3 separate regions of the Homo sapiens genome follow, and regions 2 and 3 are each linked to region 1. Evidence: fine-mapped expression QTL. A gene starts in region 1. Each other region holds a variant in brackets. All regions are shown on one strand. Distances are from middle to middle. Region 1 holds the start of BORCS5 (BLOC-1 related complex subunit 5). Region 2 overlaps BORCS5 (BLOC-1 related complex subunit 5). Region 3 overlaps DUSP16 (dual specificity phosphatase 16).

The links.
Region 2: its variant is fine-mapped to the expression of BORCS5 in whole blood (TOPMed, PIP above 0.99). The same link has a PIP of 0.9 or more in blood mononuclear cells.
Region 3: its variant is fine-mapped to the expression of BORCS5 in whole blood (TOPMed, PIP above 0.99).

What each region holds. Positions count from the first base shown.
Region 1 is chr12:12,352,397-12,360,579 of GRCh38, reverse strand. BORCS5 (BLOC-1 related complex subunit 5) reads right to left here and starts at 3,502. Exons shown (of 4, transcript NM_058169.6): 1 at 3,071-3,502. The coding sequence starts at 3,128. LOH12CR2 (loss of heterozygosity on chromosome 12, region 2) reads left to right here and starts at 3,513. Exons shown (of 2, transcript NR_024061.1): 1 at 3,513-3,652; 2 at 3,775-5,172. RefSeq lists enhancers at 2,073-2,152, 3,039-3,717, a silencer at 3,093-3,172 and a cis regulatory region at 6,337-6,772.
Region 2 is chr12:12,461,654-12,469,836 of GRCh38, reverse strand. BORCS5 (BLOC-1 related complex subunit 5) reads right to left here. Exons shown (of 4, transcript NM_058169.6): 4 at 1-4,291. The coding sequence ends at 4,061. Among named protein-coding and RNA genes, the nearest start is that of DUSP16, 97 kb to the left of the region's middle. The variant G/A (reference allele first, on the strand shown) is at 3,962.
Region 3 is chr12:12,474,024-12,482,206 of GRCh38, reverse strand. DUSP16 (dual specificity phosphatase 16) reads left to right here. Exons shown (of 7, transcript NM_030640.3): 6 at 1,861-1,984; 7 at 4,192-8,183. The coding sequence ends at 5,374. Among named protein-coding and RNA genes, the nearest start is that of DUSP16, 85 kb to the left of the region's middle. The variant G/A (reference allele first, on the strand shown) is at 3,445.

The DNA.
Region 1 (8,183 bases):
AAAAAAAAAAAATTTCTTTTAATTAGTCAGATGTGGTGGTGCACACTGTAGTCCCAGCTACTCAGGAAGCTGAGATGGGAGGATCACTTGAGCCCAGGAGGTCAAGACCACAGTGAGCCATGATCACACCACTGCATGGGTAAGACAGCAAGAGTCTCAAAAAACAAAACAACAACAACAACAAAAACCCTCAGACATTACAGGATTTTATTTTATTTTGAGGCAGAGCCTCGCTCTGTCGCCAGGTTGGAGTACAGTGGTGCAATCTCGGCTCACTGCAACCTCCGCCTCCTGGGTTCAAGTAATTCTCTTGCCTCAGCTTCCTGAGTAGCTAGGACAACAGGCATGCACCACCACATCTGGCTAATTTTTGTATTTTTAGTAGAGATGGGGTTTCACCATATTGGCCAGGCTGGTCTCGAACTCCTGACCTCGTGATCCACCCACCTCGGCCTCCCAAAGTGCTAGAATTACGGGTGTGAGCCATCACGCCCAGCCCATTACAGGATTATATAACATGAATGAACTTCTTTCATAACTAAATATTTTCTTTTTCAGCACACAAAAGTATAGGCAGATTGTTTTTACTTTCTCTTTAATTCTCCTGCTATCTTGAGATATATATATATATCTCCCTATTTCTAAAATGAGAAATAAAGGGTACAAAATTTAACTGTGACTTGCCCAAAGTCAGCAGTGCTAGACAGTTAGGAAAGGAATTAGACATCTACAAGTTATTGGTACACAAGGCCCATCTCTGCGACACTGGAGTTGCAAAGCTGTCTATCCACCCTACCACATCAAGCCAGCTATGTTTAGTAAGTCCAGGAAAAAAACCTGTTCTCAACCCCCGAATGACTGGCCTATTCCCGAGGCTTCAGCCTCCTCACTCTTTTTTTTTTTTTTTTAAGTCAAGGCGGCTGGGCACGGTGGCTCACGCCTGTAATCCCAGCACTTTGGGAGGCCAAGCCAGGTGGATCACTTGAGGTCAGGAGTTCGAGATCAGCCTGGCCAACATGGTGAAACCCTATCTCTACTAAAAATACAAAAATTATCCAGGCGTGGTGGCATGTCCCTGTAATCCCAGCTACTTGGGAGGCTGAGGCAGGAAAATTGCTTGAATCCGGGAGGCGGAGGTTGCAGTGAGCCAAGATCATGCCACAGCACTCCAGCCTAGGTGACAGTGAGACTGTCTCAAAAAAAAAAAAAAAAAAAGAGTCAAGTCTCACTACATCGCCCAGGCTGGATTTAAACTCCTGGGCTCCAGCAATCCTCCCACCTGGGCCTGAGTAGCTAGGACTACAGCCCCCTCACTCTTAAAATTATAGCATTAGTCCAGGGCAAAAATAGCCAGTAAGTCCATTCTAGGCTGAGGCAAAAATCAGAAATTTGGAGGACAAAGAGGGAGATCAATTCAGGTTCCTTGGGAGAAAGTAATCCATTTGGAGGGAAGTGATTCAAATTATAAAGGACTCCCTAGACCAAGAAATCATCCTCTCCCCCAAATATCTTCCAGACTGGGACAAGAATGAATCTTTAAAGTGTTTTATGCTCTAGAAGGTAATATTCCCAGGCTCATTATAGTCATATCTCAAAGGTTAATCCAGGGATGCCATAGAACTGTTCTGCCTCCTAGAAGCTCGTCTCCGGAGGCTTGGCATTCACTCTTCTAGAAAAATCTCTGCTGCTTTTATTTCTTTTCAAGAAATATTTATTTACCTGTTTTGGTAATTTACCTAACATTTTACAAAAGCCATGCCAGAAATCTTTCCTGCTATAAATTGTGATTCCTCCTTCCCCAGATACCAGAGGAAAGGGGACTTCAAAACACTCTAGCTAACCTCTACTACTTTATCTGTAAAATGGGATTACTGCAAAAATTATATGTAAATGTATGTAAAGTACCGGGCACAGGGGAATAGGCAAATTCTAACATCGGAAATGCTCGAATGCTGTTGGTTCATGGGCAAGAAAACAAATTAAAAAGATGCCACACCGCTTCCCCCTAAAATATGTTTCTGCCCTGCCATAGAGGCAAGAATGTCAAAGGTGGCAATTATTATATTTCTTATAACAGATATGACACTCTGGCCCTTCCAAGGAAATAGAAAAACGTAGCAAAGCTAGTAGATGCTGCTCACCATTCAAAGCTGCCCCAATCCAGTCCCCAGAATGTAGGTCTGAACTAGTCTTGAAAGTCACACCTTAAAGTGAAACACCCTTAGATCTATTAGCTTGCCTATTTCTGAATTACAGCTCCTATCAAGAACAGAGAACTTCTAAAATCGGCGACTCTTTTTAGGCCCCAGATTTAACCAATTTGCGTTAGCAACCCCGGAGCTTAACCAAAGCACTCCCAGCTGTCCTAGCGTGTGGGTAACAAAAAAAGCAGCAAATGGTCCTCAATTAAACATCAGCTGCTTTATCTATTTATTGAACACTCACTGTATTGCAAACACAATAATCCTCCCATTCTTGTCTCAAACGCTTAGAGAAGTCTAAAAATCATGGACAGAGAACAACAATGGAAAACACCAGTGCCTGCTGTCTGGCCAACCTCTACAAGATTAGAAAACGGACCAAGACACCTTCTGAGAAGAAAAAGCTGTTTCTGGAGACCTTTGCACTAAAGGGTTCAAAGCAAGTGGACACCTATCACATATCCCTTCAGAAAAGGAACCTCTAACACCCGTTTTTAAGAAACAGACTGTTCTTAGAGGTCCTATAATCCATCCACTGTGTGAGCCAAATCTCACTACATCAGCCATGAGCACTAGAGCCAAAAATTAATTAGCTCGTCTTTTAAACAGGAGGCTGTAGCTGGGAGAAACGGCTGTTTTGAAAATAAATAAGGGCACTGGCGCCCACGCTGGCTTAGCTTGCAGTCACACGCACTTCCATCAGGGGAATCGAGGCCAGGACAGATGGTGACTTTTTTTTTTTCCTACTAGCACGGTGAAGGCTTTTTCTGTGCGTTCCCGTCCGCAGTCCCTGACCCTAGTCTGGGAGGCAGCCCGCTCTGCAAGGGGACAGGGCGGGCTGGAGGAGGGTGGGAGGTTAGGACACCGACCTGAGGAGTTCAGATCGTTGGGTCGGCTCTCGGCCTCGGAGCTCTGCTCACTGCCCATGGTGCCGACAGCGGTGGCAGCAGAAGAACGGCGGGCCGGGCGGTCACCGCTCCGGCGGCGGGCGACAGGGCAGGGGCCAGGGACCGGGACGGGGAGGCAAAGCAGAGTCTGGGCGCCGCAGCGAGGCTAATGTGTGGGGCTGACGCGTCCAGCCCACGCAGGGGCCTGGGCGGCGGGAGAAGGAGAGGCCCTATTTGGGGAACAGAAACGCAAGGAGGCGCGGCGCGAACGCACGCGGCTAGCCCTCCTTCTTTCCGGGAGCCCTAAGAGAACCGGCAGATGACACTGGCTTTGCCGCACCTGCGGCCGGCGGGCGGCGCCGCTTTCACTCACTGGTTCACGCTCCGCAAGCTCGCTCCTTCCGGGACGCAGATGGGCGGTGCCGGCTACGCAAGACCTTCAGTTCCGGATTAGGAGGCCCCGCCCCCCGGCCCGAGGGAGGGGCGGAGAGACCCGCTCCTGCGACTTAGGGCGATGCCACCTTAAAGGGCTTGACCTCCTCGAAGCCAGAACTGCGGAAGAGGGTAAGCCCTTTCCTGTTGTAAGGATGCGTCACCTTTAAAACACCACCCACACTATTAAGCTCTTCAATACCCACATGTGAGAACAACTTTACAAAATAGGTATTTTTAACCCTGTTTTACAGATGGAGAAAGAAACGCTAGATAGACCCAGGATTCGAACCCACAACAGCTTGGATGCAAAGCTCATTTTGAATTCTGAAGAGCTGGGAGTTTAGCAGTGGACGACCAAACAAAAAAATACCAGAAGACGGTGAAAGCAGCAGCTGGAAATGAGAGAAAAATTAAGAAATAGAAAATGCTGTTTCATGTATTAGGGAGTGCACATCTTTAAAGAGAAGTGAAGAACCTTTTTGGCTAGGCGCTTTCTGGGGACCTTGGCAGTTATCAACAAGTCACTCTGAAACTAACAGAAGGTGAGGAGGGAGTAATCCAGAAAGGAAACTGCCATTTTTGCTAGGGCAAGAAAGTAGACCTAGCAATGCAATGCCATCAAGGAGTTAGCTGGCTCTAGCGTTCTCCGAACTTTGCAACTCATTTTATATTACATTGTCTGCGTCAAGAAATTTCAAGTAAATGCCTTGAGATTTTATATGTATAAAATGTAGTCTCTGGCCAGGCGGGGTGGCTCACGCCTGTAATCCCAGCACTTTGGGAGGCTGAGGCGAGTAGATCACGATGTCAGGAGATCAAGACCATCCTGGCTAACATGGTGAAACCCCGTCTCTACTAAAAAATACAAAAAATTAGCCGGGCATGATGGTGGGCGCCTGTAGTCCCAGCTACTCGGGAGGCTGAGACAGGAGAATGGTGTGAACCCGGGAGGCAGAGCTTGCAGTGAGCCGAGATCGCGCCACTGCACTCCAGCCTGGGCGACAGAGCGAGACTCCGTCTCAAAAAAAAAAAAAAAAAAAAAAGTCTCAGAAGAAGTGTCAAGTTGACTAAATGATTTTTAAGTCCCTTCCACTCTACTATATCACAATAATTTCCCCTATTTTACCTTATTTAATTTTCACAACAACCCTGCAGCCTGTAAGTAGGTGACTCCTCCATGGTCAGCAGGTGGTCAGTGGTCGAACTATTTAGGACTATCTGATGCTCTTTCCTCTGCTCACCATTGCAATACAATGAGAAAAATGCAAATGAATCTAAGTACAGTGTTCTCTGGGAATATGAAGATAGAACTAAAAACTGCCTGAGAGATCAGGGCAGGCTTCTAGAAAGTTGTGTCTAACTAGTCTTGAGGTTTACATAAACCACACCAGGCTGATGGGACTGGGAAGGGCCCACTAAGCAGTGAGACCATTCCCTTTTGGAGAGTCCTTGCATCCCCTCCCAGATTTCCTCTTTGAGGGGAAGGTGAGAGAGGAGGTAAAAGGGGTGAGGAATGGAGAATAACTCATTCTGGTTCTTGTTTCCCCTTTTCCACATAAAAGTATATTTGTCTTGTGTTCCATACACCAGTCCATACTGATGTGATGGTGTTTTTTATGCTTCCTTTTGAATAAACATTTCATTCTTAAAAGGATAGTCTGTCGCATCAACTGATGAATGGATAAATAAAGTGTGGTAATCATGGAATATTTATTCAGCCAAAATGAGGGAAGGATGAAATCATACTGATACATGCTACAACATAGAGTAACCTTGACAACATTATTCAATATGAAAAAGGCCTGTCAGGCCGGGTGCGGTGGCTCACGCCTGTAATCCCAGCACTTTGGGAGGCCGAGGCGGGCGGATCACGGGGTCAGGAGATTGAGACCATCCTGGCTGACAAACTGAAATCCTGTCTCTACTAAAAATACAAAAAAAATTAGCCGGGCGTGGTGGCGGGCGCCTGTATTTCCAGCTACTCAGGAGGCTGAGGCAGGAGAATCGCTTGAACCCAGAAGGCGGAGCTTGCAGTGAGCAGAGATCGCACCACTGCACTCCAGCCTGGGCGACAGAGCGAAGACTCCGTCTCAAAAAAAAAAAAAACAAAGCGTATCACAAAAGACCACATATTGTAGATTTCATTTATATGAAATGTCCAGGAGAAGCACTACAGAGAGAGAAATATGTTAGTGTTGCCTAAGGCCGAGGAGGGGTACGGGTGGAAGGGAAATGTAGACTATTATTGGGTATGGGGTTTCTTTCTGGGGTTGATGAAAATGTTCTAAAATTGTAATGATGAATGCACAACTCTGAATATATTAAAAACCACTGTAGAGTACACTTTACCAGGGTAAATTGTATGGTATACAAATTCCATATCCATAAAGCTATATTCAGTAAAAGAACATATGAAGATAAAATTCCTTCCTTCACTGGCTTAACATTTCTTGGGAACCTGAAATGTTCTAGGCACTTGCTACACGTTAAAAATAAAAAATTCAACAAGGCCCAATCCCTGTACTTAGGAAGCTTACAGTCTGGTGGCAAGAAAATTAAATGAGCATTTATATAACATAAGGAGTCTGCTGGAAGAGCTTTATAGCTAGGAAACATTTCAGATTGATGTCTTTTAGCACCTTTAAAATCCCTTCTACATGAGCAGCAAACTGTGTTATTGTATATGTAATAACTAGCAATTGAACAGCCTTTTTGAGTTTACAGGTCTGCAGGTCTATATGTTAGACCTGCATAAAAAGGTCTATATTATGACCTGCGTGTAAAGTAGATACCACTTTCCTAATTTTACAGAAAAGTTAAGTGATTTATTCTTGGTCACACAACTAGTGAGTGATAAAACCAGGATTCACGTTTTCAAAACTCATCATGCCTCTGTCCACTCCAGACTGACTCCTCTTCCCGTGTCTTTATATGACCTGGTACTCCCACCCAACCAGGCTCCCAAGCCAGAAGCCTGCTTACTGTCAGCACTGCATCCAACCAATCGTTGTGTCCTGGAGAGCCTCTCCTCTTAATTTCTCCTCTATCTGCATGCCCATTTCAGGGCCTTATCACTTCCGTTTCTTGGAAGAGAGGCCTCTGGCCTCACGTCCCTCAATCCATCCCTCCTGTGGCAGGTAGAGATAATTTTCTAGAATATTAATTAGGTCTCTGGACCTGTCACTGCCCTACAAAAAGCCTTCAGGAACTCCCCATGCCTTTAGGATAAAGTTTAAGATTTAACATATGAAAACCTTCCTGCTCTGACCCCAGCCTCTCTCTCTATTCTTCTGTGTACACTGGTAACCTTCCTAACAGGCTGAATTTCCTGTGGTCATGCAGTTTCCTATTCCTGAAATATTCAGCCTTTTCCTCCTCATCTGCTAATAACTTCATTCTTCAATAATTAACACCTCTTCCCAGAAATTGGGATCAGATGTCCCTTCTCTGAGCCTTTTTAGTTGCCATCTTCTATCATAACATTTATTCTTTTCTTGGGGAGGGCAGGGACAGGGTCTCACTCTGTTGCCCAGGCTGGAGTGCAGTGATGCTATCATGGCTCACTACAGCCTCCTAAGAGCCTCCTAGGCTCTTAGGAGATCCTCCTGTCTCAGCCTCCCAAGTAGCTGAAACTACAGACGTGTACCACCACACCATGCTAATTTTTATTTTTTGTAGAGATGGAGTCTTGCTATGCTGCTCAGGCTGGCCTCAAACTCCTGGGCTTAAGTGATCCTCCTGCCTTGGCTTCCCAAAGCACTGGAATTACAGGCATGAGCCACTACACCTGGCCTTCATCACACTTAACTGTTTACACAGCCATTGATTTACTTTTTCTCCTTCTGAACTATGAACATCTTAAAGGTAGATCTCATTGGTATTACTGGTCTTTAGTTTCCCCTGCAGGTGCTTAATACATGTTTTTTTTTTTGTTTGTTTGTTTGTTTGTTTGTTTGTTTTTTGAGACAGAGTCTCACTCTTTCACCCAGGCTGGAGTGCAGTGGCTCGATCTCGGCTCACTACAAGCTCCACCTCCTGGGTTCACACCATTCTTCTGCCTCAGCCTCCCCAATAGCTGGGACTACAGGCGCGCGCCACCATACCCAGCTAATTTTTTGTATTTTTATTAGAGACAGGGTTTCACCATGTTAGCCAGGATGGTCTCGATCTCCTGACCTCGTGATCCACCCGCCTCGGCCTCCCAAAGTGCTGGGATTACAGGCGTGAGCCACTGCGCCTGGCTGCTTAATACATGTTTTCCGATTACTTTTAAAGAAATCTTTCTCCACATAGATGGGACTTCTAACCCTCAGAGAAGAGTGTCAAGAATCTCTTCAGGAAATGAAGTGACAATGGATATAATTTCTAAGTTATGACTCAGGCCAGAAATTAAAGTTTTTATTTTATTTTTAAGTAAGCCAAGTGCAGTGGCTCACACCTGTAATCCCAGCACTTTGGGAGGCCAAAGCAGGAGGATTGCTTGAGCCCAGGAGTTTGAGACTAGCCTGGGCAATGTAGCAAGACCTCATCTATACAAATAATTTAAAACACCGGGTACGGTGGGTCACGCCTATAATCCCAGCACTTTGGGAGGCCAAGGTGGGCAGATCACTTGATGTCAGGAGTTCAAGACCAGCCTGACCAACATGGTGAAACCCCG
Region 2 (8,183 bases), 110 kb before region 1:
CTAAAAAGTCCACAAGAAGAAAAGTTTTCATTTCTCCCTAATCCATCCTTCAATCTTGAGTATCAACATTTTGAATAATTTCTGCTGAGCACTATATATCTGGGTTTGGCTGAAGTATAAACAAATCAGGAAGACCAAGTTTCCCAATTGCACTAGAATTTTAATACATGTCTGGTCACGTCTCTGACAATTCCTGGTTTTGCCTTGGGAATTACTAGGGGAAATGCCAAAGCTAAGTAAGTTCTACAAATCAACACAAAAGTGGCATACGTCATTCGCCCCAGGGCCATTAGTTTATGTAACCTTGTAAAACCGAGTTTGTAATACCTATAACGTAAGGGTAACAGTACCAACCTCTTTCATAACTGAAGAAGCCGCAAAGAAATACTCAGGATACAGAAACATATATACAGACGCACACATACATAAAATCAAACTTTTTTACTCAAAAAGCAGATTCTCCCAGACTAAACTCATTTCTAAACGGAGTTTCACTCTTGTTACCCAGGCCAGAGTGCAATGGCACGAACTTGGCTCACTGCAACCTCCGCCTCCCAGGTTCAAGCGATTCTCCCACCTTGGCCTCCCAAGTAGCGGGGATTACAGGCACCAGCCACCATGCCCGGGTAATTTCTGTATTTTTTTTAGTAGAGATGGGGTTTCACCATGTTGGTCAGGCTGGTCTGGAACTCCTGACCTCAGGTGATCCACTCGTCTCGGCCTCCCAAAGTGCTGGGATTACAGGTGTGAGCCACCGCGCCCGGCCTAAACTCATTTCTTGAATGTACTCCTATATCAGGGTATGGAGTCCTTGAAACTCATTTAATGAAATGTTTACTCTGTGCAGAGAATACTGGGTAGGTATCTAGGTTCAAAATATATTTCATATTTTAAGGATGTTATCATCTAAGACACAGGAAACTATATATGTGTGGTCTATAAAACCATATATAGCGTTACTAAGAATAAAACTTTGAGGGAAACAAAGACATGAAGGCCAGTTTCTACCAACCTTCCACTTTGACCAGGGAAACCAGGAGACTGCACATAGAGGCCTATTTGACTGTGTTCATCAACAGAAATGAACAGATTGCAAGATAAGCAAAACAGGCTCTAGAAAGAAGCAGCCAATGAACAGCTAATTTATAATTAAAAGGAAGAAAAGCAGCTGCACCTTGGGAGCTCGGAATTTAGTCACTACCAAGACCCAGGGCCACTGCTCAGAGACAAAAGGTAAACACGCTCATTGTAGTCAAGATGTATCGGAATCACAGACTTGGAATCTTAGAGCTGAAAGGGGCTTGAGAGCCCACCCAGACCTGCTCACGCTGTAGGAAGGCGGAAACTGAGGCTCAGGGAAATGAAATGGCTTGCCAAAGATTAAGGCTAGAAACGTCCAGCCAAGGGCTCTTTCACAACTCCTATCCCTGAAATATCCCATAACGGCCAGATAGGTCATGGGGTATTAACCAACAAAGAGATCCAGCATAACTGCTTCTTGAAATACAAATCACTCAGACTCCCAGGTTCCATCAGGAAATAGCAAAACATGAGAGGGAAAGGACTGGTAATGCCATGTTACCAGTCAGAGGTTCCATCAGAAAAGAACCACTAGGAATGATGTAGAAAGAGAGGATTGTGAAAGCGGTTTGAGCAATTAGAGGGGCTGGTGAAAGTCTCGGTTCGGCTGTTTCTTCTTCACCAGACCACAGGCCAGGCGGTTGGAAAGGATGGTGAGGGAGAGCAAGTACGACTGAGACCTGCAAGCCACAAGCTGGGACCTGCACCTGTCTCTCATCAGAGCCCGTGCTGGTCTCTCATCCCCAAACCTTCATCCTTGTGGCTGCAGACCAAGAAGCTGGTTCTCATACCCGGCCCAGGGTCTGGAAAAGCCAAAGGCAGAGTTCTGCGGGAGTGGGAGGAGCCGTGGGCCCAGCGGCTGCCCACACCACAAGTGCAGGAGATCCATGGTAACGTGCACGTGATGGAACAGGGCCTGACCTACATCCACTTCCAGTGAATACACATGGCTGTTGCTCTACTTCCACTTCCAAACCTCATGCAAATCTCTCTCGTGGCCAACCCTCACCAGAGAAACAAACAAGGAAGGGAATTCTGGGAACACAGTTCAGTTTAGCCAAGTTCACGACACTGCAGAAACCACAACATGCCATCAAAATATTAAACTAACTAGAATTCTTTCCGGGAGTATTGAATTTGCCTATTGTTCTTCTGCCATACTTCTCCGCTTCCACCCAGTAATAAGTAGCCTATCACCTACTCAGGACCCCAGTCTAAGTGAACCCCATGTTTTGTCTAACTTCTACTTTAGAAGTAGACACAGTTGGCTGGAGAGCTGGCTGACTGCGTGGTTTGTTTGTGCTGCACTAGGTCTGCCATCCTGCCCTGTGCCAGCCACTAACAGCTGCAGCAGTGGAAAGGCTCGGCCCTCGCAGGCTTGAACTGCCACCCACTCTGTGCTTTCATGTGTCACCTGTATTAAGTGCAGTGAGGATAATGGCACCTAAGCTATTTTTGTAGCTCTGTAAACAGCCCTTCATTCCTCGAAGCTACAAACATATCCCTGTGTTCAGAACCAGGTTCTGTATACTCCAGAAGAAAGACAATGATGGTGATGTCTTAAATATACCACTTTTTGTCAATCTAGGTGAAAGAAATATGAATATTCATTGTATTATTCTTTTGAATTTGAAAATGTAAAATTAATTAATTTTTTTTAATTAGCTGGATTTGGTGGCACACACCTGTAATCCCAGCTACTCAGGAGTCTGAGGCGTGAGGATCCCCGGAGCCCGGGAGTTTGAGGAGTCAGTGTGCTATGATTGCGCCACTGCACTCCAGCCTGAGCAACAGCACAAGACCCTGTCTCAAACCAAGATTAGAATCAGATCAAGTTTAGCCAAGATACATTAAATTAAGCGCATCAATTTTAATCTTGTGAATCTACTGAAGGCTCTTTCTGGTATCTGAAAACACACCTCCCGACGCTTGCAGGAACTTAGGGAACAGGGTACAGGCCTGCATGCCGTCCTGGCCCCAGCGACTCCCTTCAGCTCTGACTTTTAGTCTCAAGGTGTCTGCCTAGGTCTGCTCCTCACATTCCACTCTTTGCTTCTCCAGTCCTTGCTTCCATTAGAACACCTATGATGTGTAAAGTACGACACTAAGCACTTTTGTTGTTACTCAAATAACTTCCTTTCCTAAACTCCCAGAGAAATTCAGCAGCTTTTTGAGCTTTTTTCTTTTCAGAAATGAAGGCCTGAGGCTATACGGCCATATTTGTATCCCTGGCACAATATTGGACACATCAAATGGGTTCAAGAAATGTCTGTGGAATGAGACATCTCTGCAGTCAAAGAAAGCTAAACTATGTCTGCATCAAGGAAACCGGTTATCAGTGGAGATGAATCTGATGAGGGTGTGGAAAGGAAGGCTTCAGCTTCTGATGACGACTAAGGGACACCTAACCTGACAGTCAACAAAATGCCAGTGTTCCACCTGGGCAGGAAGACGCGCCCCAGATAAGGGCTTGGTGTGACGGAAACAGTCAGGGTAGAAACAGGAACAATACAGAGACCTAGATTCAATTAGTTTTTCAAGTTGACCACACATAAACCAGACAGCCTACTGAAAAGTTCATGAGGGCGTTGAGAACACAGAGCTTCGTAAAATATTTTCCCCTTGTCTCCATATTTTTATTCCGGTACCTGGACTGGACTATATACTCTCAATTAAAAAAAAAAAAAAACTAAATAAAAATAATTCTCAATGCAGAGTTCTTCAAAGAATTCCTAATAATTCACACGTTCCAGCTTCAGTTATCACCGAGAACTGGTTAGGTTCCTTCCACACCGGGAAACTGCATCAAGGAAAAGAGCTGGGCAAAGTCAGATTTTCATGCCAGCCGGACTCCTTCGCACCCACTTTCAGGGAGCCTCCC[G/A]CCAGCCTCCAGACCTGGTCAGATGATATGACCTTAGCTCCACACGTCCTCAGGGTGTCGGTGTCTGGGGCTCCCAGCCCCAGGCAGGCCGGGCAGCAGCTACAGCCTGAGCTCGCGGTCGGGCTTCATGCTGAAGGGCTCCAGCCGCTCGCCCTCGGGCAGCATGCTGTTGAGCCTGTCCAGCAGGGGCACAGTCTGGTCGATGCCCATCTGTATGCGGCGGAGGATGGCGGACATCTCGTTCACTTTCTGGATCTGCTCGGCATACTTGGCGTATCTTTTCTGGCGCTCCTGCATGAAGCTGAACAGAGTTTCTACAGACAGATCCATCTGTGGATGGGAAAGAGAAGTACATTATACCTTGTTTAATCAAGTCCTCTCCGCAGGGCCGGGTGTCCAGCCTGTGAGGGACACAGTCCCGCAGATCCAGTGGAAGCTGACAAGTTTTACAGGAAGCACCCAGGGCTAAAAAGCCCTTCAGGGACACAGCTTTATCAACTGTTGTGCCAGAACCACCTTTAGAAGAGAACTGAGAGGGGACTGTCCCTGGCTCTATGTTCTGGGAATGTGCGTTATTTGTACCTTGTTGAGATCCTGAGATTTCTATCTCCCTATATGAGGGGAATTCTGGATGTGGAAATCAGTCAGGCCAAGGCTGAATCTGGCTCTGTCACGTGTATGAGCTGCTAATGCTTATCCTTTGTGTCTCAGGTTGCTTATCTAGAAAAAAACTAGGAGCAGATGGGCGTGGTGGTGTGTGCGTGTAATCCCAGCTACTTGGGAGGCTGAGGTGGGAGGATGGCTTGAGTCCAGAAGGTCGAAGCTGCAGTGAGCCATGATCATGCCACTGCACTCCAGCCTGGGCGACACAGTGAGACCCTGTTTCTAACAACAATAACAAAAATCCCAAACCCCAAAATGCATGTTCTTCACTCAATCCTTCTCTTCCCTGGACGGCTGCAGTTTGGCGGACACTCGGGGAACACTGCAATGGAAGGGAGGCTCTCCCTGCCAGGGCCAAAAATGCAACCAAGGCTCCCGTCCTTACAACACACCACATTTGTCAAACTGTGAGGACTATCTCATGTGCCCTTCTCCCCCATTAAAGAAACTGCGGGCTCTGGGCTGCCCTTGCGTGACTTCTTCTCTTCCCCTTACAGAGGCTCTTTAGTACCCATCACCCAGATAAAAATAGAGAGAGAGACCGCCATCGTGTTGGGCACTTGCACCCCTTCCTCAGCATGGACCCCACTTCCACCCCCTCACCCCTTGTTTCTTTCCCAGGCCAGGAGAAAACAGCTCAACTACTGAGGCCCACACTCCTATCCCAAGGTTCCCAGGCTCCTCCAGCCCTTCCTTCTGGTTTATTCCTGGAGCACGCCCCTTCCCGACCTTGCATCAGGACAAGGGCTCAACACCCGGTACCAGAGAGCCTCTGAAAATGGCTTCGAGAGACACAAAAACAAACTCATGAAAACACGGGGGACCAAAGCCAGCCCCAAGAAAAAATAATTTCCCTTTTGCTATCATCTGTGGGGAGGGCAGGAGGGGCGGGAGGCGACCGAAGCACATCAGTGTTGCTGTCCTCTGGCGGGCCTCTTGCTTGAGTGCCTGCAGGGCAGGAGGAGCAGCTAGTTGGGCACGGGGAGAAGGAGAAGAGAAAAAAAAAAAAAACATGGGAGTGAGAAACTCCAAATAATGTGGAAACAATGCACACTTTCCGGGGTTCTCTGCAGCCCTGTCTGGCGCTCAGCACTTTGGAAGTAGTGAGCCAGGAGAGTCCTGTGGTCCTGACAGTCACCCGCTGGGCCTTTTCAGGGTGGCCTTGCAATGAGCACTGAGAAACACTCCACACACCTGAGAGACAGCGGGGCTCGTGGGAGCCAGGTGGAATCCTGAATTGGGAACCTTCTCGGGCATCACATTTTACTTGGCAGGGCATTCCTGGCCCTCCACCCCGCAACCCTACCAGACTAGATAGATGCTTGAAGAGTTTCTATCTGAAATGGCCTCCAAGGCTCTAACTTATCAAGTCTAAAGTCCTTGGCAGTCAATCCATCCCCGATTCACACCTGATGAAGACTGTTCACAGCCATCTTCACAGGTACTTGTCAAATGGCATGTACTTCCCTACATGTTTCCACATCCAGCTGGGGCCCGTGTTTAATGTCTCCAAAGCTTTTGTAAAGGCACTTTCTGTTAATGCTGAGATGAGCACACTGAGTTCAAACAGGTTGTTCATGCGTGCTGACATCATGTCTTACTTCCATTATGCTCCATGGAAGAAAAAAACCGCAAGAGGAAACTTGAGTTTGCGTGACTTTGAAGATCTCACAGTGACAGAACCTACACTGGACCCCAGCTCTCCGAAGTCCAGCAGCTCCCCTCTTTTACACATATTTCCTGAGCAAGACCCTGTATCACTGGTGCTTTATGAGACTTTTGTTGGCACGTGGCACTGCATTAAAGAAGACTAGATCACATGTAGGGAAAGTTATTACCTTTTAAATGTTTCCCCCATTCTTTGTTGCAAAGAAAGTCTCAACTTGGTGCAAGCAACAATGGACTATCTGGAAAAGGATGGTAAAACTGTTGATGCCTATTTTTGATGTCTCTGACCTTTGCTCTTGAGGTAACATTGTCCTTGATCCATAATCCCTACCTTTACTCCACGAACCCCCAGACACATGCTCATTGTAACACATTTGATGTGACTGTAGGCAGTAAACCAGTATCTCACACAATTCTGAATCACCATTTTGACAATCTAGGGATATATCCTTATTTGCCTTTCCTATTTCTATTTTTGGCACATGGATTCTAACAAGATAACATATATACTAATTGTCTTCTGGATAAGCAGAGGTGTTATGATATCACCTAGGGTTGCCTCACTGAGCACCCATAGCCATTCAAAAGACCCAGCTTGGCCAGGCGTGGTGGCTCATACCAGAACTTTGGGAGGCTGAGGAGGGCGGATTGCCTGAGCTCAGGAGTTCGAGACCAGCCTGGGCAACACGGCGAAACTCCGTCTCTATTAAAATACAAAAAATTAGCCGGGCGTGGCAGTGTGCGCCTATAGTCCCAACTACTTGGGAGGCTGAGGCAGGAGAATCGTTTGAACCCAGGAGGCAGAGGTTGCAGTGAGCCAAGATCGCACCACTGCACTCCAGCCTGGGTGACAGAGCGAGACTCCATCTCCAAAAATAAATAAAATAAAATAAATCCAGCTTCAGACAGGGCAATCTAACCATCCAAGCTGGAGCTAAAGGGCAACCACGAAGCTGTTTGTGAAATGGATAGTCACAATTTTTGTTCACCACACTCATCAATCCATTCATCTACCAATAAAACAACGGTTAAGATTGCAAGTTCAGGAGTCAGACCACCTAGGTTTAAGGGCTACCCTCGACCCAGTATCTATGTGATTTTAGAAAATTACCCAGAAGGCTGATTCCATGAGAGCAAGGATTTGGTGTGCTTTAAACCCTGCTATATCTCCAGTACCCAGCACATAGCAGGTCCTGAATAAATATTTGTTGAATAAATGAATGAAAATATACGTAAGCCTCGGTTTCCTCATCTGCAAGGTAGTGGGGATAACAAGAGTGGCCACTTAAAAGACTGTCCTGAGGATTAAATGAGATTCTGCAAGGAGAACATTATCATCCTGCCCAGCACACAGTGAGCACTGGGTAAGTGTGAGCTATTACCACACAGGCAACAGACAGTTATTGAGTAGCATCACGTGCCATGTGCCATGCACTATGCGAGGTCCTAGGATAGATATTGAGAACCAAAACTACTTACACCCACACAGCTTACCGTGTACATTAACATGAATTTTCTTTTCCACTGTTTCTGTTAACATGACTTTACTATTCCAGGAAACTCAGGCCCAGAAACATATAAATTGCAAATAACTTTGTTTCAGGAACTTAAGAAAAATTAAATGAATAAACTAGCTGATTTTCAAATAGAAAGTGAACAACTCTTTATTCTCCACAACTCTTGCCTCAAAACCCTCGCCTTGCCGTGACACATGACCAAGTTATAATCAGTGGTGTGTGCATGCAGAAGTCTCTCCTGGCAGCTTCCAGGCACCTTCCTGGAAAGGCAGCCGGCATGCACTCTTTGTTGCTTCTCTTCTTCACTGTCCCCTCCTCCACTCTGCTGCTGCTGAAATGCAGGTGCACCCCATGTAGACCATGAGAATAATGAA
Region 3 (8,183 bases), 120 kb before region 1:
TGGGGGATTGTTAGAAGCAAGCAAGATCCTTCTAGGTCCTTATAATCTAGGTTTTGAGATAGATAATTATTAAAATTAATGAGAGAGTATTGTCAACATTAAAAAACAAAAACCCAGACTCCTTCCAGTAAGGATTTGAAGCAGTTTTCAATAATAGGTTAGAACCAAAAGATACACATATTCTCACACATACACATTATAATGGTATAAAGGAGCAATAATCAAGTAATAGGGGCTAGGAAATGTACAGTAACTGACAAAAAGTCTGAATTGCTACTTCTTATTGAAATTGAGTAGAAACCTTAGCTTTGAGCTTCTTAGCAGTAGGGCAGAAAGGGAAGGAAACACTGAGAGTAACGTGGGGTAAATGATAGCTGAGAAGGAAGGGGATGCTGGAGGCACAGGAAGGCATGAGACTGTGTACACGAGTTTATATGTTCTTACTTGTATAGCATGCAATTCTTTGTTTGAGTGTTGCTTGGTATTCATTTGTTAGTGTTTTATTGTGTTTGGTTTCCTGATCTAGAAGGGAAGCTGCTTGCTGCTTAATTATTCATATGCTACCCAAAACCTGTATGTTGCTTTATATATGATGAATAATTATGTTATATATAATAATCATTACACTAGAAACTTATATTTATAGCATAGGCAGTGAGATTGAATAGCTTTGTATTATTCAGCTGCCAAAGTAAGATTCTTTGCGCATCTGTTAATCGCAAGAATTTTAACACAAGGTTCAGTAGACTTTTGGTAGTATCTACCAAGAATGAAAAGGGGAGAATTCAGCTTCATGACTGAGCACACATGTAATTATTTAGAATTGAGGCAGTCATGGAACTGGCCAGAATGTTAGTAGCTTCCAGGCTGTGTGGAATAACCTCGTCCCCTGCCACATGTACATATTGTTAAGCCCCTCAGCAGTGAGAGATGGCAGCACTGCTTGGATTTCCTTGGTTCTTTGGTTCTAACAAAGTGTCCGTGAGTCCTTCCATCATGTTGTGGGGAATTGAGATAATGCCATAAGACAATAACTCCTGGTATCAAGGAAGGGATAAAAGTTCTCTTGGATCTCATTAAAGTGACCTGCTAAACCTGATTCATAGCCTATACAAGGTTTTCTTCTAAAACTCAGTAAATAAAGTTGAGCCATTTTATGACATACAGAAAAGTTGCTTAAAATAGGGAGGCCAGGGGCAGTGGCTCACTCCTGTAATCCCAGCACTTTGGGAGGCTGAGGTGGACGGATCACTTGAGGCCAGGAGTTAGAGACCAGCCTGCCCAACATGGTGAAACCGCAACTCCACTAAAAATAGAAAAATTAGCCAGGCGTGGTGCTGCACACCTGTAATCCCAGCTACTCTGGAGGCTAAGGCAGGAGAATCACTTGAATCCGGGAGGCGGAGATTGCAATGAGCCGACATCGTGCACTCCAGCCTGGGCGACAGAGCAAGACTCTATCTCAAAATAGTAATAATGATTTTAAAAAATGTAATTATATTTCTTAGGTAATCAGGGAAAAATTTGAAGTGTCAGATAACAGGAATATATTAAATATTACCCATATCTTAGGGGAAAATACTAACATAAGTCAGGAAACCTGAGTTAGTAGTAGCTTGCTTATTAACGAATTGCTTATTAACAAACAGTTTTGGACCCCAGTTGTCCTGCATGTCAGTGGTGAGGGAATTATCTTCCCCTGCCTCCTCAAAAGAATATTGCGAGGATAAATATGATATACACAGATGAGATTTGCGTAGAGGTTTTCAGGTGGAAGACACTGAGTAAGTAAATGGAAACAAGATTTCACTGCTGAACAAAATAGTTAGTAGTGACCTTTCTTGCATTTGACTTATACAGAGAAAGCAAAAGCCTCCAATGGATGTGTTCTAGTGCACTGTTTAGCTGGGATCTCCCGCTCCGCCACCATCGCTATCGCCTACATCATGAAGAGGATGGACATGTCTTTAGATGAAGCTTACAGGTGAGGGCAGGAAAATGTCTTCTGTGATTGGCTTTTCATTTGACCTGAAACATAAAGAATGATGAGGATGGGTAACCAAATTAAAGCAGATCATGATTATTTTAGTCACATTTTTTACAGGTTACTGTGGATTTTTTAATGGTCTTGTGAAGATTGGAAAAGAATGCTGTTTTACTATTTAGCATTAATTCTGCCTTCACATGTGTCAGACTCATCCTCAGCCACTTTTTATGTTTAAGGAACAACAGATCCAGGCAGAGATCTCTATCCTGTTACATGAGTTTATTGCTTTCCCTAAATGCAAAAGTATCCTTTGTTTTAATTTGCATATGATGGGGGGAAGCTCTAATAGAATGCTCACTGCAGAATCTCTGTTCTGCTTCAAACTTTGGATTGCTGGGAAGAAAAAGCCTCATAAATGCAAATATGAACCAGATTAACTGTCAGACTCCATTCTTCAGTAAAATTTCCTACATTCTAGAGTCGGCCAGATTGTGTGTGTGTGATTTTGACTGGGTTGCCTCCAGTCTCTGATTTGTCTGACTCCCCTGCATGTATCGTTGGGTAGAGATGGTTCATTTTTATCTGATAAGGAATCAAAAATATAGAGACTCATGGAGCAGGCCTGATTTAACAGTTGGATTTTTTTTTTCTCAAATTGCAAAGTTTGGAAAACAGAAATGAGCTGCCCAAACAGCTTCCCATGTTAAGTCAGCAGCCTGGAGGACGTGGGTCCTCTGGTCATCTGCACGAGCTCTCATGCCGCCGTTCAGACCTCCCTGAGGTCCTCCTGCTCCATGTAGAAATCAGAAGAAAAGGCACCCTTCTATCACGTTATGAAGTCTCATTATGAGCACCCTACATTTATACTTGTTATTCTTGAGCCAGTTATTTCTATTTTTGTGAATTTGCTTTAGGTTACTTGATTTCCAAGTTTTTTTTTTCCTTGTTCCTTATTCAAATGCAAATTTTCAGTGTAGTTCTACTCCTCCATCACCTGAAAAGTATCCATGAGGTGCAGGGGCCGCTGAAGAATTGGTCTGTCATCTCTGAGTCTTTATTTCCTCCATGAAACATGAAAGCCATCTAGTATTAGTTTTGATCCTTTGATGAATCTTTTTTTTAACATAGTGGTTACAAAAATGGACCCAGATATTTGACCAGCCTGGTTTTGAATCCAGCACCATCATTTAGTAGCTGTGTGATTTTGGGCAAGTCACTTAAGGATTCTGTGGAGCTATATGATGGGGATAATGACACCCACCTGATAAAGGGTAGTTCTGAGGATGAAATGATGATTCAGTGCATAAGCACAGTGCTTAGCACACAGAGACCACTTTGTCTTGGTTAGTCTGTCATGTTGACTATAAAAAGAAGTGTTGCTTTGATACTTTGATCATCTGATACCATCTTCTTTTTGTCATTAAATTTAAAATGTGAACTGTCTTGAGAAGTGACTG[G/A]TGACTTTAAGAGGGGATGACATTGGAAATTGAAGAAGGAGAGTGGCTGTTATACTGTACTTTTGATGGTAGCACTGGTGTGTGTGTGTCAGGGGTGTCCTTGGTGGTGAATAAATAATCATCTCTTGGCCAGGCATGGTGGCTCACACCTGTAGTCCCAGCACTTTGGGAGGCCAAGGTGGGAGAATCACTTGAGCCCAGAAGTTCAAGACCAGCCTGGGCAACACAGTGAGACCCTTTCTCTACAAAAGAAACTTTAAAAATTAAAATTAGCCAAGCGTGTAGTCCTGTAATCCCAGCTACTCAGGAGGCTGAGGTGGGAGGACTGCACGTGCCCAGGAATTCGAGGCTGCAGTGAGCTATGATCATGCCACTGTATTCCAGCCTGGGCGACAGAACAAGTCTCTGTCTCTTAAAAAAAAAAAAGACCACCACCAACAAAACCCCATACCATCTCTTATCAGCTGCATTGGGAGCCCTGGGCCTTTGAAAATAAGGAGACAAAAACTAGAGCCTTTGGGGCCCAGCTGCCTCTTCTGGCATACTCCAGGATGTGTGCAAAGCTTCCCCAGTGCCTAGGGCCTTTGTATTCTCCACCTTGAAGCATCTCCCCGAACTTGTAAACCAATCATCTTCCAAAGTTTTTGAGGTCTGCCTGATAATTCCCTATCTCATTTATTCACTTAATATTCTTAAGATAAAGTGTAGTTGTAAAATTCGGGTTTTTGTTTTTTCCTCTCTCTGCAGATTTGTGAAAGAAAAAAGACCTACTATATCTCCAAACTTCAATTTTCTGGGCCAACTCCTGGACTATGAGAAGAAGATTAAGAACCAGACTGGAGCATCAGGGCCAAAGAGCAAACTCAAGCTGCTGCACCTGGAGAAGCCAAATGAACCTGTCCCTGCTGTCTCAGAGGGTGGACAGAAAAGCGAGACGCCCCTCAGTCCACCCTGTGCCGACTCTGCTACCTCAGAGGCAGCAGGACAAAGGCCCGTGCATCCCGCCAGCGTGCCCAGCGTGCCCAGCGTGCAGCCGTCGCTGTTAGAGGACAGCCCGCTGGTACAGGCGCTCAGTGGGCTGCACCTGTCCGCAGACAGGCTGGAAGACAGCAATAAGCTCAAGCGTTCCTTCTCTCTGGATATCAAATCAGTTTCATATTCAGCCAGCATGGCAGCATCCTTACATGGCTTCTCCTCATCAGAAGATGCTTTGGAATACTACAAACCTTCCACTACTCTGGATGGGACCAACAAGCTATGCCAGTTCTCCCCTGTTCAGGAACTATCGGAGCAGACTCCCGAAACCAGTCCTGATAAGGAGGAAGCCAGCATCCCCAAGAAGCTGCAGACCGCCAGGCCTTCAGACAGCCAGAGCAAGCGATTGCATTCGGTCAGAACCAGCAGCAGTGGCACCGCCCAGAGGTCCCTTTTATCTCCACTGCATCGAAGTGGGAGCGTGGAGGACAATTACCACACCAGCTTCCTTTTCGGCCTTTCCACCAGCCAGCAGCACCTCACGAAGTCTGCTGGCCTGGGCCTTAAGGGCTGGCACTCGGATATCTTGGCCCCCCAGACCTCTACCCCTTCCCTGACCAGCAGCTGGTATTTTGCCACAGAGTCCTCACACTTCTACTCTGCCTCAGCCATCTACGGAGGCAGTGCCAGTTACTCTGCCTACAGCTGCAGCCAGCTGCCCACTTGCGGAGACCAAGTCTATTCTGTGCGCAGGCGGCAGAAGCCAAGTGACAGAGCTGACTCGCGGCGGAGCTGGCATGAAGAGAGCCCCTTTGAAAAGCAGTTTAAACGCAGAAGCTGCCAAATGGAATTTGGAGAGAGCATCATGTCAGAGAACAGGTCACGGGAAGAGCTGGGGAAAGTGGGCAGTCAGTCTAGCTTTTCGGGCAGCATGGAAATCATTGAGGTCTCCTGAGAAGAAAGACACTTGTGACTTCTATAGACAATTTTTTTTTCTTGTTCACAAAAAAATTCCCTGTAAATCTGAAATATATATATGTACATACATATATATTTTTGGAAAATGGAGCTATGGTGTAAAAGCAACAGGTGGATCAACCCAGTTGTTACTCTCTTAACATCTGCATTTGAGAGATCAGCTAATACTTCTCTCAACAAAAATGGAAGGGCAGATGCTAGAATCCCCCCTAGACGGAGGAAAACCATTTTATTCAGTGAATTACACATCCTCTTGTTCTTAAAAAAGCAAGTGTCTTTGGTGTTGGAGGACAAAATCCCCTACCATTTTCACGTTGTGCTACTAAGAGATCTCAAATATTAGTCTTTGTCCGGACCCTTCCATAGTACACCTTAGCGCTGAGACTGAGCCAGCTTGGGGGTCAGGTAGGTAGACCCTGTTAGGGACAGAGCCTAGTGGTAAATCCAAGAGAAATGATCCTATCCAAAGCTGATTCACAAACCCACGCTCACCTGACAGCCGAGGGACACGAGCATCACTCTGCTGGACGGACCATTAGGGGCCTTGCCAAGGTCTACCTTAGAGCAAACCCAGTACCTCAGACAGGAAAGTCGGGGCTTTGACCACTACCATATCTGGTAGCCCATTTTCTAGGCATTGTGAATAGGTAGGTAGCTAGTCACACTTTTCAGACCAATTCAAACTGTCTATGCACAAAATTCCCGTGGGCCTAGATGGAGATAATTTTTTTTTCTTCTCAGCTTTATGAAGAGAAGGGAAACTGTCTAGGATTCAGCTGAACCACCAGGAACCTGGCAACATCACGATTTAAGCTAAGGTTGGGAGGCTAACGAGTCTACCTCCCTCTTTGTAAATCAAAGAATTGTTTAAAATGGGATTGTCAATCCTTTAAATAAAGATGAACTTGGTTTCAAGCCAAATGTGAATTTATTTGGGTTGGTAGCAGAGCAGCAGCACCTTCAAATTCTCAGCCAAAGCAGATGTTTTTGCCCTTTCTGCTTCACTGCATGGATACAGTTGGTAAAATGTAATAATATGGCAGAATTTTATAGGAAACTTCCTAGGGAGGTAAATTATGGGAAGATTAAGAAAGGTACAAATTGCTGAGGAGAAGCAGGAAACCTGTTTCCTTAGTGGCTTTTATCCCCTCGGCATGCGATGGGGCTGATGTTTCTATGATTGCCTCAGACTTTCACATTTACTAGTAGGGCTGAGAGAGGCTTTAGTGAGGAAGGAATATTCAGAATAAAACGGTTGAGAAAGCTGAGAAGACCATTGAGTTTTGATCAGTTGTGAATAGAGTGCAAAGCCATGGCCAAGCTGTTTTTGGAAACGCTGGCCGGCGTGTCTTCAGTGGAAAAAGCAAATCAAAATGGAGCGAGAGCAAAGGGGCGTCCTCAGTCCTCAACCTACAATCACTGTATGGAATCGGTCCTGGCAGCTGAACATAGGAGGTCACTGGAACAAGTGATAGTGCAGATTGGCTTTCAAACATCCTCCTGGCTTGAGTTTTATCAGCTACAATGTGGGTCCTCTTTTGAAGCCTTAATTCACAACAGCAGCTTTTTGGGGGTGGGGCTGGGCGGGTGTTGTCATTGTTCTTTCCCTTCCTGTAAGTGTCGCTAGTTGCTGCCTCGTATCTCAGGTTTTTCTCTGTTTTTGAGAAATGGACAGTTTTTTGACCAGGATGTGACTTCATGTTTCCTATGGTGACTTCTAAAACCAGCACAGAATGATATGACTCAACACAGACCGACTTGGTTATGGGGATGATGAGCCGCACAGACCTCACTAGTTGTGCACAAATAATGTGCTATGATGGGGTGTAAAGTGAAGGCAGAAGAGGGTCAGCCGCATTGTTATGATACTGGGAAAGTGCTGGTCAACGATTTGAGTTAGTTTTTAGATATACATTGAAATCTTTAATCAGACATTCTCAAGTTTCACACAGTAGTTTTTGATGTTATGTACACACACACCAAATGTGTAACAGTTCACCACTTCCAGAGTGTGGTCATGCCCAAAACATGTTTAAGAAAGGAAAGCAGTAGCTCCTTGCTAACGATGTTTCAGGAGGTTTGGGGGACTTGGTTTTAATGAGCTTCTGTCATTTAGGGCTTCTCTTGGCCATGGTCCCCCTTCCTTCTGGAACTGTGATGTAGTCACATCCTACAGCCTTTAGTGCTGGTTCACTAGTGTCAGATAATCAGTTCTTGGAATCGAGACTGCCGTGGCGAAGGGGTGGCCTCGGAGGCAGGCTCTGGAGCTGCTTGGATGTCTTTAGGTGGGGTGGTGGCTGGCTCTCTTCAGCATGTAATTGGGGAAACCCTCGCGTCTACTAGGGGTGATACAGATGGTGATTTTAAAGAGCAAAACTAGACTTCTATGTGAGAAGTGCTGGAAAATGATTTAGGACATGTGTAAAGTTAGATGGAAAGACTGTAAATGTTTAATATGAATATAGTGTTCTTTTGAAGTAAGGCCAGCTGTTGAACGGTTAAACTGTGCATTTCTCATTTTGATGTGTCATGTATGTTAATGTATGAAATGATTAAATAAAATCAAAACTGGTACCTGTTTATACATAAATACGAGAAAAGACCTATCTTTGCAGCCATAAACTCGGTGGGAACACCACCACTCAAGTTGCCAAAGGAGGCAGTGGTGAAACCTGTCCTGTTCTCACTTAAATGAGGATTTAGCTCAAAATAAAGTGGTGGTGTCATCAGGTTTATTCCGTGTTCTGTCATTCACATGGAACACCGGATGATTAGCTAACAGTTTA